2 separate regions of the Homo sapiens genome follow, and region 2 is linked to region 1. The links come from fine-mapping of genetic effects on gene expression. Tissue or cell type: whole blood. Region 1 holds a variant in brackets; the other region holds the start of a gene. All regions are shown on one strand. Distances are between the middles of the regions.

Evidence for each region. PIP is the estimated chance that this variant, and not a neighbour inherited with it, causes the effect.
Region 2: it holds the start of AGAP1, and the variant in region 1 is fine-mapped to the expression of AGAP1 in whole blood (TOPMed, PIP above 0.99).

What each region holds. Positions count from the first base shown.
Region 1 is chr2:235,889,272-235,897,374 of GRCh38, forward strand. All of the region lies in intron 10 of AGAP1 (ArfGAP with GTPase domain, ankyrin repeat and PH domain 1), which reads left to right. Among named protein-coding and RNA genes, the nearest start is that of GBX2-AS1, 270 kb to the right of the region's middle. RefSeq lists an enhancer at 3,623-4,123. The variant T/C (reference allele first, on the strand shown) is at 4,410.
Region 2 is chr2:235,489,175-235,497,277 of GRCh38, forward strand. AGAP1 (ArfGAP with GTPase domain, ankyrin repeat and PH domain 1) reads left to right here and starts at 4,869. Exons shown (of 18, transcript NM_001037131.3): 1 at 4,869-5,675. The coding sequence starts at 5,513. RefSeq lists an enhancer at 6,123-6,996.

The sequences.
Region 1 (8,103 bases):
AGTCATGAAACTGGGGAAACCTGACATTGCAGGACACCGTGGGGCTGGTGTGAGGCTGAAAATGTACCTAGAATGGGTCGGCTGCCTGGGAACCTCACGAATACTGATCCCCAGGGACTGCGTGTCTCCCTCAGAACTGGGGCAGCTTTCTACTTGCAGAAGATCATGACAAGGGACTTCAGCTGGGTGGTGGCCCTGGGATGTCACTTTCCTTCCCACTTAATTGCTTTGGATTTCTCTTTCCTTTCTCGTCATCCCCCAAAAGTGTCTTTGCCTTTTTTTTTTTTTTTTAGCCCTGAGCCCCAAGCTCAGTCCTTACATAGATTGTTTAGGAGACCAGTAATCCCTAGTTCCTTTGACTTGCAGCTCAGCCTCACTCTGTCCTTTACTTAGGACATAAGCTAAATCTACATACCCTTCCTACACCACAGATAGAAGATATGGAGGGAAACCTTTTTCTCCAGGTCTGTTTCATGTTGTTGAAAACCTCAAACCTTTTTCTTAGGAGAGAACCTCTGTTTCTAAGCAGTGGAATAGAATTGCTTATGGAATAGCCAGGTCATAGGATGTGATAATTTCCCTGGAAATCAGAGGGGAAAAGAAGCAAAACATGGAGCCAACTCAGACTAAGAAAGCTCCATGAAAGTTTATGCCAGTGATAACCTCCAGGCCCCAGATCTGCTCAGCTTGGGTTCTGTGAAGTCTTGACCCCAGCCATCACCCACAGCCACATCTCCCAGCCTCCTTCAGCTCTTCCCCAAAGGCTTAGGAGGTGTTAGCACTGGCTGCCTCAGGATGATGGGGTCCCTGCACTTCCATGCTGTGTAGGTTGAGAGAAGGAGGTATGGGCACAGGAGGAAGTGATGGTAGATTTCCACTGTAGTTATTCCCTTTTTTTTTTTTTTTTTTAAGACAGTCTTACTCTGTCCCCCAGGCTAGAGTGCAGTGGCACGATCTCAGCTCACTGCAACCTCTGGGTTCAAGTGATTCTCCTGCCTCAGCCTCCTAAGTAGCTGGGATTACAGGCATGCACCACCACGCCTGGCTAATTTTTTGTTTTAGTAGAGATGGGATTTCACCATGTTGCCCAAGCTGGTCTCAAACTCCTGACCTCAAGTGATCCACCCGCCTCAGCCTCCCAAAGTGCTGGGATTATAGGCATGAGCCACTCTGCCCAGCTGTGGTTATTCCTAAAGGCCAGTGGTGGGGCAGGATAACAAGGACAGCACCAGAGTGGGGAGGGGTGAATGAACCTACAGCGTCCACATCATTGCTTCCCTCACAGAGTATGTTCAGCCACCAGTTGACAGTGGGCGGGGGCTGCCCAGCCTGTCCAGGAGCTGGAGCACACCTGCATAGCTTTCAGATCACACAGAGGTGCCCTGCTGCAGACGCTCAGGCTACATCCGTTCTAGTGGGTGTGTTTGAAGGTAGACATTGGGAAACTGGCTGGAAGGTGTCCGTTTTAGAAACATGGAGAACGAATTCTTTCACTGGGTAGGAAGTTTGATGACATTGTCTTCTAGGTCACTTCAGACTCTGAAGAATGTGAGCTCTAAAACTTTCACCAAAAACTCTCAGCAAACTCAAGCTAATGGAGTTAGTTGGATTTCTAAGGAAAACGCTGTCCTGAAGTTGAAGCTACTGGGTGTAAGACTAAAACTGAGGCTCAAAAAAAAAAACACCTCAGTTAATTCATCTTTCTTTCTCAAGATGCTATTATTAAATGAAACCAAAACCCAGTTGAGATAACAGATAGAAAACTCAACCAAATAATGAATGAAACTGCCTTAATGGAGTGGCCAACTGCCCTGGTTTTCTGCAGGACTGAGGGGTTCCCAGGGTGCAGGACTTTCATAGCTAACATCAGGGAAGTCCCAGGCAATCTGGGACCTGGCCGCACTTGCTGCAGTACTGACCGCCCTAACAGCTCCTTTATCTCCACTTCGCATTTTGCAATGATAACCCTAAACATTTAAATAAGACTGACACGGTCAAAGCAAGCACGCTGGCTGATGCTGCTGCTCTGCGGTCTACATTTTTGTGTCTTTGAAAAATTGTATGTCTCCAAGACCTTTAAAAAGCCCTAACTGCTTAACTTTCTTGGGGGAAATATATATGAGTGTCTCATGGTTTTCAGACACTTTGCTGGATCACAGTTCAGGTGGATCGAGGGCAGCCTGTTCTAAGACCCTGAGAGTCCCTTTCTGTGGACTTAAATGTGAGCCTTAGGGAGCACCTTGATAGAAAAATGGAGGCATAATGAGAAAGAACTTGGACCTCAGGGCTTCACAGTTCAGCGTGGCCACCTATTCATCTTCCATGTCGCAAGCACGGCCGTCGAGTGCAAGGCTGCAATTCCCTGCTGACAAAGATGTGTGCAGTGAGATTCCTAAGTGGACCTGGAAGGATGAGCTGAGTGGCCTCACGGTCAAGCCAAGGACTTCAAGGTGCCCCTGTCTAGGAAAGCTCACCAGTGTTCCGGTCCTGGCTCTCTGGGCTTCCTCAGGAGGTCGTTTGGCAGCTGTGAAACTCCTCCCCTCCGGGCCATACCTGGCAGACGTGCATGAACTGGTCAGACTTTTAAAAAACCTCCTTCTGGCCAGGTGTGGTGGCTCACACCTGTAATCCCAGCACTTTGGGAGGCTGAGGTGGATGGATCACCTGAGGTCAGGAGTTCAAGACTAGCCTGGCCAATATGGTGAAACCCCATCTCTACTAAAAATATAAAAACTAACCAGGTGTGCTGGTGGGTGCCTGTAATCCCAGCTACTTGGGAGGCTGAGGCAGGAGAATTGCTTGAACCCAGGAGACGGAGGTTGCAGTGAGCCGACGTGGTGCCACTGCACTCCAGCCTCGGCAACAGTGAGACTCCCATCTCAAAAAAAAAAAAAAGTCCTTCTTAGATTCCTTTCCATTCTGCATGTGCCCACATTAAAACAGCTGTGGCTCTGTCATTTCTCCCTGACCTGCAATACTGGAATTTTCCTTCTTAAATTTTCCTCCTTTAAAATTGTTAAAGAGCTTTTCTTCTTTTCATTACTAGGCAGGTTAATTTCTATCTGAGTGGCTTGGACTCTCCTGCAACACATAAACCCTTTGATTCTGTGTGTCGTCAAAGTTTGGTTTTGTTCTTTCAAAGCCAGGGCAGCCAAACTTGGACTCTCTAAAATTATCATCAGAATGCAGATTTCAGAAAGTTTCTAGTTTCAAAATCAGACAGAAGACCCACTTCTTTACTGATGTAAAGACAACAAAAAGATCTGTGATGATTCCTAAGTAGGTATTTTCCTCAAAAGAAATCATTCAAGAAAAAAAAAAAAAAGATTGCTATGAGAATAGCAGCTCGTGGCTGTGCTCAGTGCCTGTAACTGCCTTTGTAAATACACGAATTCCTCACATAGGACTGCAACATTTTACTTGAGGATTGAAGATTCACGAAGAATCTGTGATCCATCTCTTCACCCACCTTCACTGTCTGCTAGGATGGACCTCAGACTTCTTGAGGTCGTGAACATTCATTTACACTCAGAGAAACTTTTCACTGGTTTCCCCAGAACATTGAAACAGTCAGAATAACTCCTGTGCAGGCTACTGGACTGACAAATGTGAAGGCCAGATTTTCAGATGTGAAGCTGGGAAGACCAAAAAGACAGACCTCCCTTTCTTACTGAGAAGAGCGTAGTCAGACATGTCAAGTCTGGCACGCTGCTGCAGAAGGCGTGATTCATCTTAAGATCAAAAATTATTTCATCTTGCTTTCTTGGTCATAAGCTAAGGTGCTTGGAGCTGTCCTTTGGCCTTTCATGTGCTGTGTCTGTGGTGCGGGTGTGCTGTGTCCTCATAAGGGTGCGCCATGTCTGTGGCGTAGTGTGCACCGTGTCCATCATAAGGGAGCGCTGTGTCTTTGGCGCGGGTGTGGCGTGGGTGTGCCATGTCCATCATAATGAAGCACCATGTCTGTAGCGCGGGTGTGCCATGTCCATCATAAGGAAGCGCCGTGTCTGTAGCGTGGGTGTAGCGTGTCTGTGGCGCAGGTGTGCCGTGTCTGTGGCATGGGTGTGGCTTGTCTGTGGTGTGGGTGTGCCGTGTCCATCATAGGGGTGTGCTGTGTCTGTGGCGTGGGTGTAGCGTGTCTTTGGTGTGGGTGTGCCGTGTCCATCATAAGGAAGAGCTGTGTCTGTGGTGCGGGTGCACCATGTCCATCATAAGGGTGAGCCATGTTTGTGGCGTGGGTGTGGCATGTCCACGAGGGTGCACCATGTCTGTGGTGCGGGTGTGCCGTGTCCATCATGAGGGTGCGCCGTGTCCGTCATGCAGATGTGCCTTCATGGCCCTCCCTGATTCCCAGGCCCCATCTAGTGTACATCATTGCCTCGGGTGAGAATGTCCCTTTCTGCCCCATCTAG[T/C]GTATGTCATTGAGGAGGAGGGCTGTGTTCCCCACAGTCTGCCCAGGGGCTGTCATGTGAGTGGCACATAGGTATTGCTTAGTACACACCGGTCACAGTGACTTGAGTGCCACCACAATGAAGTTTCCAATCGTGTGACTCCTTCAGCATCTTTGCTCCTGAACTTCCTGGACTCCAGCCCTCAACATTGACAATCCTGGCTGTGCTCTACAGATTGTGGTATGATTGAGACTAACAGTACTCACCATGTCTTACAACATGACCTCCCTAAACTGACATAGGGTTGGGTGAACACACACACACACACGTAATCACTGCCTCACGTGGCATTATTACAAATGCTGCAAAATCTAAACACATCACTGGAATCCAAAAAGCAATCCATTTAGAGGCATATGAGGAGATTGTACGGATATTAAAGAACAAAGATCTGGAACTATGGCAACAAACCAACGTTGCTGTTCTAGCCTGAGCTGCCTGTTTTAGGCAAATGGGAATGCTTTTGGAAACAATATGAACCGCAACGGGTATTTCTGCAAGTTTCTAAGACTGGCAGGAGTCAGCTCGGGGGAAGCAGGAAGAATCCCCAGTTGGTTGGCTATTCTTGGGACCGAAGAGATAATCCCCATTGAACAGAGCCTACACTCACATCCTTGAGTCCGTGATGTTCTTCGCTTCCCTGGGAACAGCCAGAGTCCAGCTTTCCGTGTGGATTGCTTTCACAGGGATATCTGGCCCTTCAAGCCAGTGGTGTGAATGTCACCCCAAGAACCTTGACGTGTAGATACTGCCTACTTCAAGTCATACTGCAGCTCTGCCTCTTCCCAAGATAGGATTTGAAGCAGCTTCCAACAGAAAATGGATGTGAAAATGTATTGTGAACACATGCATAGGACCATACATACATCATACACACACACATACACACACACTTAAACATACACATGCACATGTACACACACACACACAGCTATGGGCACAACTTCATTTCAACTTGTAGATTGTGAAGTAAAGGCATTGGAACTTTGTGGCTTGCAAATCTAAATTACCTCCTTCCATCTTAAGATCTCTTCCCTCCTTTATTCTAAAGTGTGATTCGGCTCCTCTCTTAGCTGATCCTTCTGGTGTGCAGGTCAAAGAACACTGAGCTGGGAATCAGTTGTGGTTTCCGATTCTGCCGTTGCCCCACCCGCTTCCATGTTGGTTCCAACGTGGCTTTGTGGAGTCCTGGGACTCAGGCACAGTGTGAGAATCACTGAGCCTCTCAAGGTCAATTATGCAGTGATTGCTTGGTAGCTCTTCTTCCTCCACCCACAGCCTCGGCCTCGGCCTCCGTTTTCTCTTCCTCCTGGGAATTCATCCAGAATGACGCCAGAAGTCACACAGAGGTGATCTTGCAGACCATACTCCCCTGAGTGTGCAGGCCTGCATTTTTGCTCAGTTCAGCTAGCGCAGTGGCCTGCTCATAAAGTTTTCCAAAACCTGTAGGCTGTATGAAGAATAGCGGTTACTCCTAAGCTGCTTTTAACTTTCACCTTGTGATTCTCATCATATTTTTGTTGATTTCCCTCCTTTGAGTTCTTTTATGTATTTCCATGATGGAGAAGATCCCCTCTCCCGCTTGGTTGATGTCCGTGCCCCTGCTCTTGCCCCAGCTTGCCTCCTCAGACTGGCCTCTCACCTGCTTCCTGCTCTATCGCTGTCTTTGTTTTCTTTTAGTTTCTCATACTTGCCATGTTATCTGGCCTCCGGGTCTTCACAAATGCAGTTGCCTCTGTTGAGAATGTTCTTTTCTGCCCCATCTCTTTGCCTCACTAACTCCTCTTTCCAATCCTGGCTTAAATGCTACTTCCTCTTGGGAGTTTCCCCACACTCGGCCTATTTGGGCACCCATGCTGTGTGTGCTCTCACGTTACTCTATTGGGCCATCTCTCTGATTCTCCCACAAGACTGGAAGCTCCTTGAGGCAAGGATGTATATGTCACCAATGTATCTCTAACATCTGGAACACTGGCTTGTTGGATGGATGGATGGATGGATGGATGGATGGATGGATGGATGGATGGATGAATGGAGGCACAATTAGCCCATATGCTTAACCTTTCCTTAAATGTGTCGGACTAGAGTTCCTAAAACCTCGTGGAAGGAATCCACCATGCAACACTTTTAGGAAGCAGAAATATGTCTCAGCCATATTCTGGCTCCATTTGCTGCAACTTAAAGAAGGATCTTGATGGGAGAAAAGCTTCAGGATTTTGTTTGTTGCTTTTTTCATTTTAATTGTAAAATACATACAACATTTGCCACCTTAATCATTTTAAGTATACTGTTCAGTAGTATCATATACGTTCACGTTGTTGGGCAGTCAACCTCCAGAACTTTTTCATCTTACAAAACAAACTCTACGCATAAACACAAATTCCTATCCCCCCTCCACTCAGCCCCTGGCAACCAGCATTCCAGTTTCTGTCTCTATGAATTTGTCTGCTCTAGGAACCTCATATAAATGAAGTCATATGCTGTTTGTCTTTTTATGACTGGCTTGTTGCATTTAACATTATGTCCTCAAGATTCTTCCAGTTGTAGTGTGTGTCAGAATTTCCTTCCTGTTTGAGGCTGAGTAATATTCCGTCATATGTACACACCACATTTTGTTTGTCCATGGATGGACACTTGCTTTCACCTCTTGGCCACTGTGGACAATGCTGCTAGGAATGTGAGCATACAGATAACTCTTCAGAGCTTGGGTTTTAAATGTAAAAACTGTAACATGGGAAAGCTACAGAGTATGGCTGAATATTAAACCTGCCTAACCTTACCAGCACTCTGGTCATGGTACATTTGCTGGGCCCAGTCCTGACCACAGTGAACTGTGCAGGCTTCATAACATGCATGGTGGTCTGGAAGCCATGTGATAAGAAGAAGAAAACCACCCAGCAATGACATGGTCACATGGGCTCTCCTGGAGTTTGCTAAGCACCTGGGTGACCTGGGAAAGAACTTTGTCATTCATGTGACCTGTTTGAAAGAATGTGATCAGTTGTTTCTCCCATGTGTCAACAGTTCCAAAGCCAAGGAATTAGGCCGCCATAAAAGTAGAAATGTTTTCAGGGCATAGTGACAACTTTTGTTGGAAATGGAGCCTACTAAAAACTCACTGGTGTTACACCAACACAGAAAAGGACTCTGTATCAAAGTCTATTTCTGTCTATGTAATTCTTTCTTTGTTTTATATACCCTCAGGGTTTGGAAATGTTTGGGATTTAAAAATAAAAGGGCCGAAAGCTATCCTCACGACATTTCATTATTGATGTTGTTGACACACAGTGAATGGAAGCAGGGTGAGACTGGACAAAATAAAGTCCTCTTATTTCTTTTTTTGTTTGTTTTTTGTTTTATTTGGTTTTATTTGTTTTTTTGGAGACAAAGTCTTGCTCTGTTGCCCAGGCTGGAGTGCTGTGGCGTGATCTCAGCTCGCTGCAACCTCTGTCTCCAGGGTTCAAGCAATTCCACCATGCCCGGCTAATTTTTATATTGTTGGTAGGGACAGGGTTTTGCTATGTTGGCCAGGCTGGTCTCAAATTCCTGACCTCAACTGATCCGCCCACCTCGGCCTCCCAACCTGCTGGGATTACAGGCGTGAACCACCACGCCTGACCAAGTCCTCATGTTTCTAAAAATTATACCACTAAAT
Region 2 (8,103 bases), 400 kb before region 1:
GATTTGTTGAATGAATAAATAAGTGACAGAATAAATGAACAAATGAATGGGCTGATCATTCAAACCATCTTTGATATTTCTGGGACAGAAGACGTTCACTACTTTAAGGCTTGGCTTGCTCTCACAGTGGAGTTTTCACTCAGAGCTTATAAGTGCCTGGAAGGACCGTCTCACACACACACACACACACACACACACACACACACACACACACACACACGGCTAGAATTCTTGGCTCTATTCACAGAAGATAAATCTGCAGCACATTCCTGGTAAATGTCACTGGGTCCCATGTTGCTGGAGAAACTTCCATTTTAATTCAGCAAATCTTTATTAGGCACCTACTATGTGCCTGGCATGATGAGAGAACAGCTCTTACCATAGGAGAGATATTGTTGATTAATTAATTTATTGAACGTTTGTTGCATTATAATGCTCCAAGCCCTGTGCAAGAGAAATATGGTCCTTGTCTTCATGACAATTATAATTTAATGGGGAAGCTGTTTGTTTGCCAAACATTTATTGGGTAGCTACTATGTGTCAGCTACTGTTATAGACACTGGAATAGAATGGGGAGCAAAACAGACAAAAATTAATCCTGGCCCTTGTGGAGCTTATGTTTTAATGGGGGACACAAACCATACACAAGATAAATAACTAAAGTATATGGTGAGTTAGACGGGAATAAGTGCTAAGAAAAACATAAAGCAAGTGCATTAATCTCCCATTGCTGCTATAACAAATTAGCACAGATTTAGTGGCTTAAATGACAAAAATTTATTATCTTATAGTTCTGGAGGTCAGAAGTCCAAAAATGGGTCAATAGGGATGTGATCCTTCTGGAATCTCTAGGAGAGAATCTGTTTTCTTCCATTTTCCAGTTTGTAGAGGCAGCCCACATTCCCTGGCTGGTGGCCCCCTCCTGCATCTTCAAAGTCAGCCCAGCGGCATCTTCCAATCTCTCTCTCTCCCTTGCCTTCCTCTCCTCTCTCTCTCTCTTACACCTGTCATCATATCTCCTCTGATTCTGACCCTCCTGCCTTCCTCGTATAAGGCCTCCTGTGATTACACTGGGCCCACTCAGATAATCTGGGATAATATCTTCATCTCAAGGTCCTTAATTTAATCAGACCTGTAAAGTCCTTTGCCACTTAGACTAACATATCTACTTGTTTCAGGGATTAGGATGTGGGCATCTTAGGGGACCATTATTCTTTCTACTGTGGCAAGGAAGGGGGACATGAAGTGTTGGGGAACAGGGATGCCATTTTAGAGAAGATGTTAGGGAAAGTCGCATTGAGAAGGTGGCTTTGGAGCAAATACATAAGGAAACAAAAGTCCTGGTGAAGGGGTCAGGGAGACAGAGAAGCAGATGACAAGGGTGGGGGTGTGATGGGTATATTTAGGGGGCAACAAGGAGGCCAGTGTGGCCGAAGAGGAGAGAACAGGCTAGAAGTAGAGATGCTGTGGCGAGAGAGACAGTCATAGGCTGAATTATGTCCCCAAAATTCATATATTAAAGTCCTAACTCCCAGTACCCCAGAATATGACTATATTCAGAAATTGGACCTTGAAAGAGATGACTAAGCTAAGACGATGTCATTAGGAAGGGGTCTAATCCAATATGAATGGAGTTCTTCTAAGAAGGGGAGATGGGGACACAGACACACAGAGGAAAGACCCTGTGAGAACACAGTGAGAAGGCAGCATCCACAAGCCAAGGGGAAACCAACCCTGCAACAGCTTGATCTTGGCTCTTTGAGCCTCCTGCATTTTGAGAAAATGGATTTCTGTTAAAGCCATGCAGCCTGTGGAAGTTTTTTTTGTGTGTTTGTTTTGTTTTGTTTTTTTGAGAAGGAGTCTCCCTCTGTCACCCAGGCTGGAGTGCAGTGGCACGATCTTGGCTCACTGCAAGCTCCACCTCCACCTCTCGGGTTCACGCCATTCTCCTGCCTCAGCCTACCGAGTAGCTGGGACTACAGGCACCCGCCACTGCACCCGGCTGATTTTTTTGTATTTTTAGTAGAGACGGGGTTTCACCATGTTAGCCAGGATGATCTCGATCTCCTGACCTCGTGATCCGCCTGCCTCGGCCTCCCGAAGTGCTGGGATTACAGGCGTAAGACACCACGCCCGGCCTTTTTTTTTTTGAGATGGTCTTGCTCTGTCCTCCAGGCTAGAGTGCCGTGGTATGATCACAGCTTACTGCAACCTTGACCTCCTGGGCTCAAGCCATCCTCCCTGCACAGCCTCCGGAGTAGCTGGGACTAGAGGCTCACACCACTGTGCCTGGCTAATTGTTGTATTTTTTGTAGAGATGGGGTTTCACCATGTTGCCCAGGCTGGTCTCGAACTCCTGGGCTCAAGCAATCCTCCCAAAGTGTTGGATTATAGGCATGAGGCATCATGCCAGGCCTGTGGAAGGTTTTTATGGCAGCCCTTGCTGGGTAACACAGGTACACAGGTAGAGACACCAGGCGCCTTTGCTCTGGACTATATTCTCAAGGATGTTTGCAGAGCAAACAGCCTTGGAAGACAGAGATAATGTTTTCTGCCACAGTCAAGGGTAGACATGCTTACTGTCCATGATAAAAACAGTGTCTCCCTCTGGAGTGAAGGGCAGACACACTTACTGCCCGTATGAAAGATCTGAGCTCTCTAAGCTAAGGGTTAAAAACTTATAAAACTCGTATAGGGCAGCTGACTCCAAGTACAGGCTTCACCTGGGCCTCATGTTGCCCGTGGGAATTGGGTCTCAGTAAACTGGTGCATGAAAATGCTGATATTCCAGCTAATGCTACTATTATGAATAACAAAGTCCTTTGTTTCTGATCTGGGAGTCTCATGTCTTCTGCCAGCATCCATGAATTGTGGCAGGCTAACTTGTTAGCTTACAAGTAGGGGAATAGCTCAGCCCCTGAGCAGCTCTTGATAAGAGCTCATGCCTGTGGGGCGAGGCCAGATGGGAGTCATTGGAGGGTTTTGAGAAAAGGCATGACAAGTCCGGACGTAGGTTTTGTAAGTTTCACCAGGTAGGAAGCAGTGAGCTATTACAATTGTTAGATCTAGTGATGGTCCAGCTAGATGATCCTGACTTCAGCCGAGTGGTGAGAAGTCGTGGGATTCTGGATCCTCTGAAGGTGGAGCTGACACCATTTGGGATATGAGAGAATGATAAGCAAAAAGGACAGCACTGAATTTTTCGCCTAAGCAAATGGTGGCCTGGAGTTGCCGATGACTGGGATGGAGAAGATTTTTAGGAGATGTAGCCGGAAGGGATGGCAGGAGTTCAGCTGGCGACATGCTGGACTTAAACACCAGCTAGGCTTCAGGAAATGTTGAGGATGCAGGTGGATGTGAATTTGTTATTCAGGGGTGAGGTCACAGCTGGAGATACATATGAGCTTCATTAACCTGTGTATGATATTCAAAGCCATAAGACAGGGGCGATCACAGCAAATAGCAAAGAAAAGAGGCCTAACCATAAGCCCTGGGGCCCTCCATATTTAGAGGTTAGGGGAGTAGAAGAAAACCACAAAAGGGACAGTGAAGCCAGAAACACAGCAGGAAGCCCTGGTGAGCACTGGGAGAAGGGGTTTCCAGGAGCGCAAGTGATCAGCTGCTGCTGATAGGTCAGGTTTGGTGAGGCCACATGCCTGCCTCTTGGTTACTAGAGTTACTTATGCGTGGACAGCCCGAGGCATGGAGTGATGACCTGTGCCTAAGTGTCAAGGAGAAGACAAGCAGGTCCGGAATGGTAAAAATGTCAGCACATCTTTGGGAAGTTGTGGAGCCCAGCCAGTAAGCCAACACGGCTGGATACCAGGGTGCTTAGGCCATAGCAAACTGCATGTGAGCCGGTGAAGGCTCAGCAGGCTTTAAACGGGGATGCCGGCCCGGCTGGCTGAGTTTCAGAAAGACCACGCCGATGGCTGGGGGCAGGGACTCAGCCAGTGTCCTCAATCCAGGACCTTGTGGGACCGCCCGGCAGCCAGTGCTTCCGCAAATCTGAAGGGTCCCATTTGCCTCAAAGCGGCGAGACGAGCCTTCCAAGCGCTGCTGCAGTGCGGTCCCAGCTCCGCGGGGGGTCCCCGGGGATGACCTAAATCGGGGATTGCGGTGGGACAGACGGTCCAGGGGCTAAGGAACCCCGTGGAGCAGGCAGCGGCGCTCAGGAGGCAGCAGCTTGAGATCCACGGCTCGATTTTTAAAAATTGTAAGGGAGAAGGATGCCTCGAAAGCCTCTGTGGTATTTTGTCGCATCTCGCACCCCTGTCTAAACTTCAGTCCACTCGTGGAGTGTGGACCCCCACGCCGCATGGGCTCAGGAGGCGCTTCGCCTTTGGAAAGAAATCGCATGTATTAAGGGAAAGCACGTGTGCTACTTTGAGAAAGGAGGCAGAAAGTTACCAAACGCGGGAAGGGGAGGCTCGCCAACCAAGCGAGGCCGTGGGACACTGGCGAGTCGCAGAGGCTCCTGGAGCCAGCCGCTTGGAAACAAACAACAACGCGGCGGGCGAACTCCCGGGCAGCCTCCCCCGTGCCGGGGCGCGGGGGCCGCCGCGAGAACCCGGGCAGGAGCTGGCAGGCGCGGGGCCTGGCCGGCGGGAGGGTCCCGCACCCCGGCCCAGTGTGAACACCCCGCGCACCCCCCTGGCCCGGCCCGCCGGGGGCGCGGACTACAAGTCCCAGGAAGCCCAGAGGCAGGCGCGGGGCGGGGCCTGGCGCAATTCCCCGGGATCCGGCGCGCTGGGAAGCGCCGAGGAGGACGCAGCGCCGGCGGCCGGAGGGCGGCAAGCGCGCGGGCAGGCGGGGCGCGGGCGCGGGCGCGGGCGAGGGCGAAGGCGGGGGCGGGGCCGACGTGGGCCGGAGCCCTGCGTGCCAGGGAGGGGGCCGGCCGGGCAGGCGGCGGGCGGCGCTCGGAGCGGGCTCCGCGGCTTGCAAGGCGCCTGCGACTCGGTCCCAGGTCGGCGGGCGGCGCACGGCGGGCTCGCGCGGGGGCCCCGGCGCGCCGGGCGGCGCAGTACGCAGCGCGCGGACCCACGCCACGGCCAGGAGCCCAGAGCAGCGCGGCCACACTGCCCAGGGGTCGGCCCTCGGCCCCGGCGCTCGGAGCGCGGCGGCTGCCTGGGCTTTAATGGCTGCTCCGCGGAGCAGCGCCTAGGGCTGGAAGGCGGCTGCGGCTCAGGAAGTCACCCGAGCAAGCCTCCTTCGGGGCCGGCCGCACCCGCCGCGGCGCGCTCCATGGGGGCGCGCTCCCCCCGGGCGGCCCGCTGACCCGGGACGCCGGGGCCCGCTCGCTCGCCGGCCGCGCGTCCCGGCCATGAACTGAGCCCGCGGGCCAGCCCCGCGCCTGCTCCGCCCGCGCCTTTCTTCTCGCGCCTCCTCCGCCCGCCGCCGGCGGGCCCGGCTCCCCGGGGGCTGCGGCGCCCCGGGCTCGGCGGCCCGCGGGCCCCGGGGCGCGGGGCGGCGGCGGCGGGGGGCGCGCGGCTCCGGGCGCGGCGCCTGCACCATGAACTACCAGCAGCAGCTGGCCAACTCGGCTGCCATCCGGGCCGAGATCCAGCGCTTCGAGTCGGTCCACCCCAACATCTACTCCATCTACGAGCTGCTGGAGCGCGTGGAGGAGCCGGTGCTGCAGAACCAGATCCGGGAGCACGTCATCGCCATCGAAGGTGAGGGCCGGGCCGCCTTGGGGCCTCGGGAAGGCACGGACGCCCGCGGCGCGGCGGGGGTGTGCGCTGTGTGCGTGCGGGTGTCCACACACGCCGGCCGGGGCACGCGGCTGCTCCGCCGAGGGAGCACTGCGGCGCTGCTTGTCTTGCAAGGCCGGGCGAGCGTCGCCTGCGCCCCGCCGCGCCGCGAGCTCCGCCAGGAAGATAGATCGTCAGCGTTAATTTGATCGTGGACAATAGAGTCTCTCCTGCGGGAAAGTGGCTCGGTGCCTCCGCGTCCTGGGCTGCCGGAGCGTCCCGGCCCAGCAGACGCCTGGGGGCAGCCGGCGGGGTCGGCGCCACCCGACCCCTGACAGGTTACCAGGCCAGGCCTGGGCGTCTTGCTGGACGTTGAAGACGTGTTCTGAGAAGTGCTGCCGCTGGGGGCGAGGCCCGGGCCGGCGTGTTTGGGCGGTGCAGGGCTGCCCTCCTTAGTGTGTTTGCTTAATTCAGGGGTGCAGTTGAACTTAGTGGATGCCGAGAGCCAGCCCTAGCCGCGGGAGCATCGTGTCCAGGTGCCCCTGTGCAAACGCTGGAACCGGTAGTGTGCTTTGTACCAACCAAAAGTCCGGGGTTGGATTAGAGGAAGAACCCTACCAGGAGGGCAGGGCGTCCTCCAGCGGAAGGGTCTCGCTTTCATATGTCTGCAGTTGGAGGCCACTGAAGTGGAGGGTGCTGTGGTTTTAAGAGGGGCAGGATGCTTGGGCAGAATCCCCACCCGCTTCCCTCTGCATGTCAGGCAGGGCCATGGCCTTCCAGGAGAGCTACAGCAGCAGTCTGCCTTCCGGGGCTGTGCCCTCTGGATTTCTGGTGGCTCTCATTTCTCTGTTTCCAGGCTGCTGATTTATTTTCTTGCTTCATCCCTTTGGTCCGGCCAAGACTCACCTGGGGCACCAGGTGGCATGTGCGTGGACAGTGTGGAGTCATATCTTAGCCACAGTTGATCAGCACTTTCTCCCTTCTCAGCGCTGTTGGCCAGTGATGGTAAAAAGCCTGCAGAGTGGCTTGTCCATAATACAGACTGGCCGGTAAGACCTCTATTGAGGAACATTGAGAATGGCCCAAAGCCGGCAGGAATGTGCCTGAAAGCCTGGTGCTGGCGTTGCCCAGCCTCCTCCCTCTGTGAGGGAGAGGGTATCAGCCCACAGAGAGGCTTTGCCTTGGCACTATGTAGTCTGAACTACTAACCCCGAAGTGCTTTGGTTTGAAACTTGGCCAGTTAGGTGGAGAAAGTGGATGTTGTGTTGCTGAGCCCTTGGCATTTGGCAGCCCTGTAGACTTGAACCATGTCCCAGCCAGGCTGGATGACTGGCAGACTATACCCTTGGGGGACTTGTTAATTCCAGGGGAGGATCCGGGTGGAGCTCCAGCCTTATGGGGTCCTAGCCCTTTGTGTGTATCTGTCTCCCATGAGGTCACCTGGCTGCCTTGTTGGTGACTTAAGATGCTCTGTGGATTCCTCAAGAGATGGGCTCTGTCTGCCTCTGCATGACTCGTGATGAGTGGCGGTGGGACCTGGACCCATCTGCTGATGATCAGGTGGTGTTGCAGCAAGGTTCCTCCAGAGCTCCAGCTCTGCGTCTGTTACGGGAGCTGTGAAGGCTGCACGGTGCTCATTTCAGATGGTTCTTCCTGGCTCTCTGGCTGCATCCACAGAAGTCTGATGAAACACTGTGAAAGCCGGCGTCAGGTATTGAAGGCACCTGGCTGAGAGCCTCTTTTGCTGCATGAAGACCTCTGGCTGAGTGGGGTTCACAACACCTCGTTTTTATTTCCCATTCTTGAAGCTGAGCTCTGGGGCTCAAGCACTTCCAGCAAAGCAGTTTGACTTTCTAGCAAGAGGATGTGGTTGCATTTTCCTTTCTCCCTTAAAAGAAAAAAAAAATGCGTCGTTCCTAGATGATGGTTTTTTTTGACAGCACGATGCCTACCTTTGCGATTTGAGATTTTAGGCCCCTTCTTGGCCGGGATCCTTGTCATTTTTAATAAGGCTTAGAATCATTGGGTGAATCCTGTTTGGGACTGGGGTGATGCTGTTATTTTTCTCTTAGAAATAGGGATGTCTACATTATGTGGAGCTGTAGTTAATTTAGTGAGGCTTAAGAACCACTCAGACATGCTGCTGTTCTTTGCATGTTCTTCTGTTATCAATAATGATACCACTTTTCATTTCTGTAGAACTTTAACAGAAATATTTTTGCATGTATAGTCTCATTGTGTGGCTTCACCAACCCTGTGAGGGTGGGTGGGTAGCTTCCTCATCCTCATTTTATGGAGGAGCGGGTGGAGGTTCAGGGAGGGATAATGACCTCCTTAACATTTGACTGAGGTGGTTTGAAGTCTGATCTGAACCAAGGGATCATTTGAATGGAGTTTCTGTCTCCACACT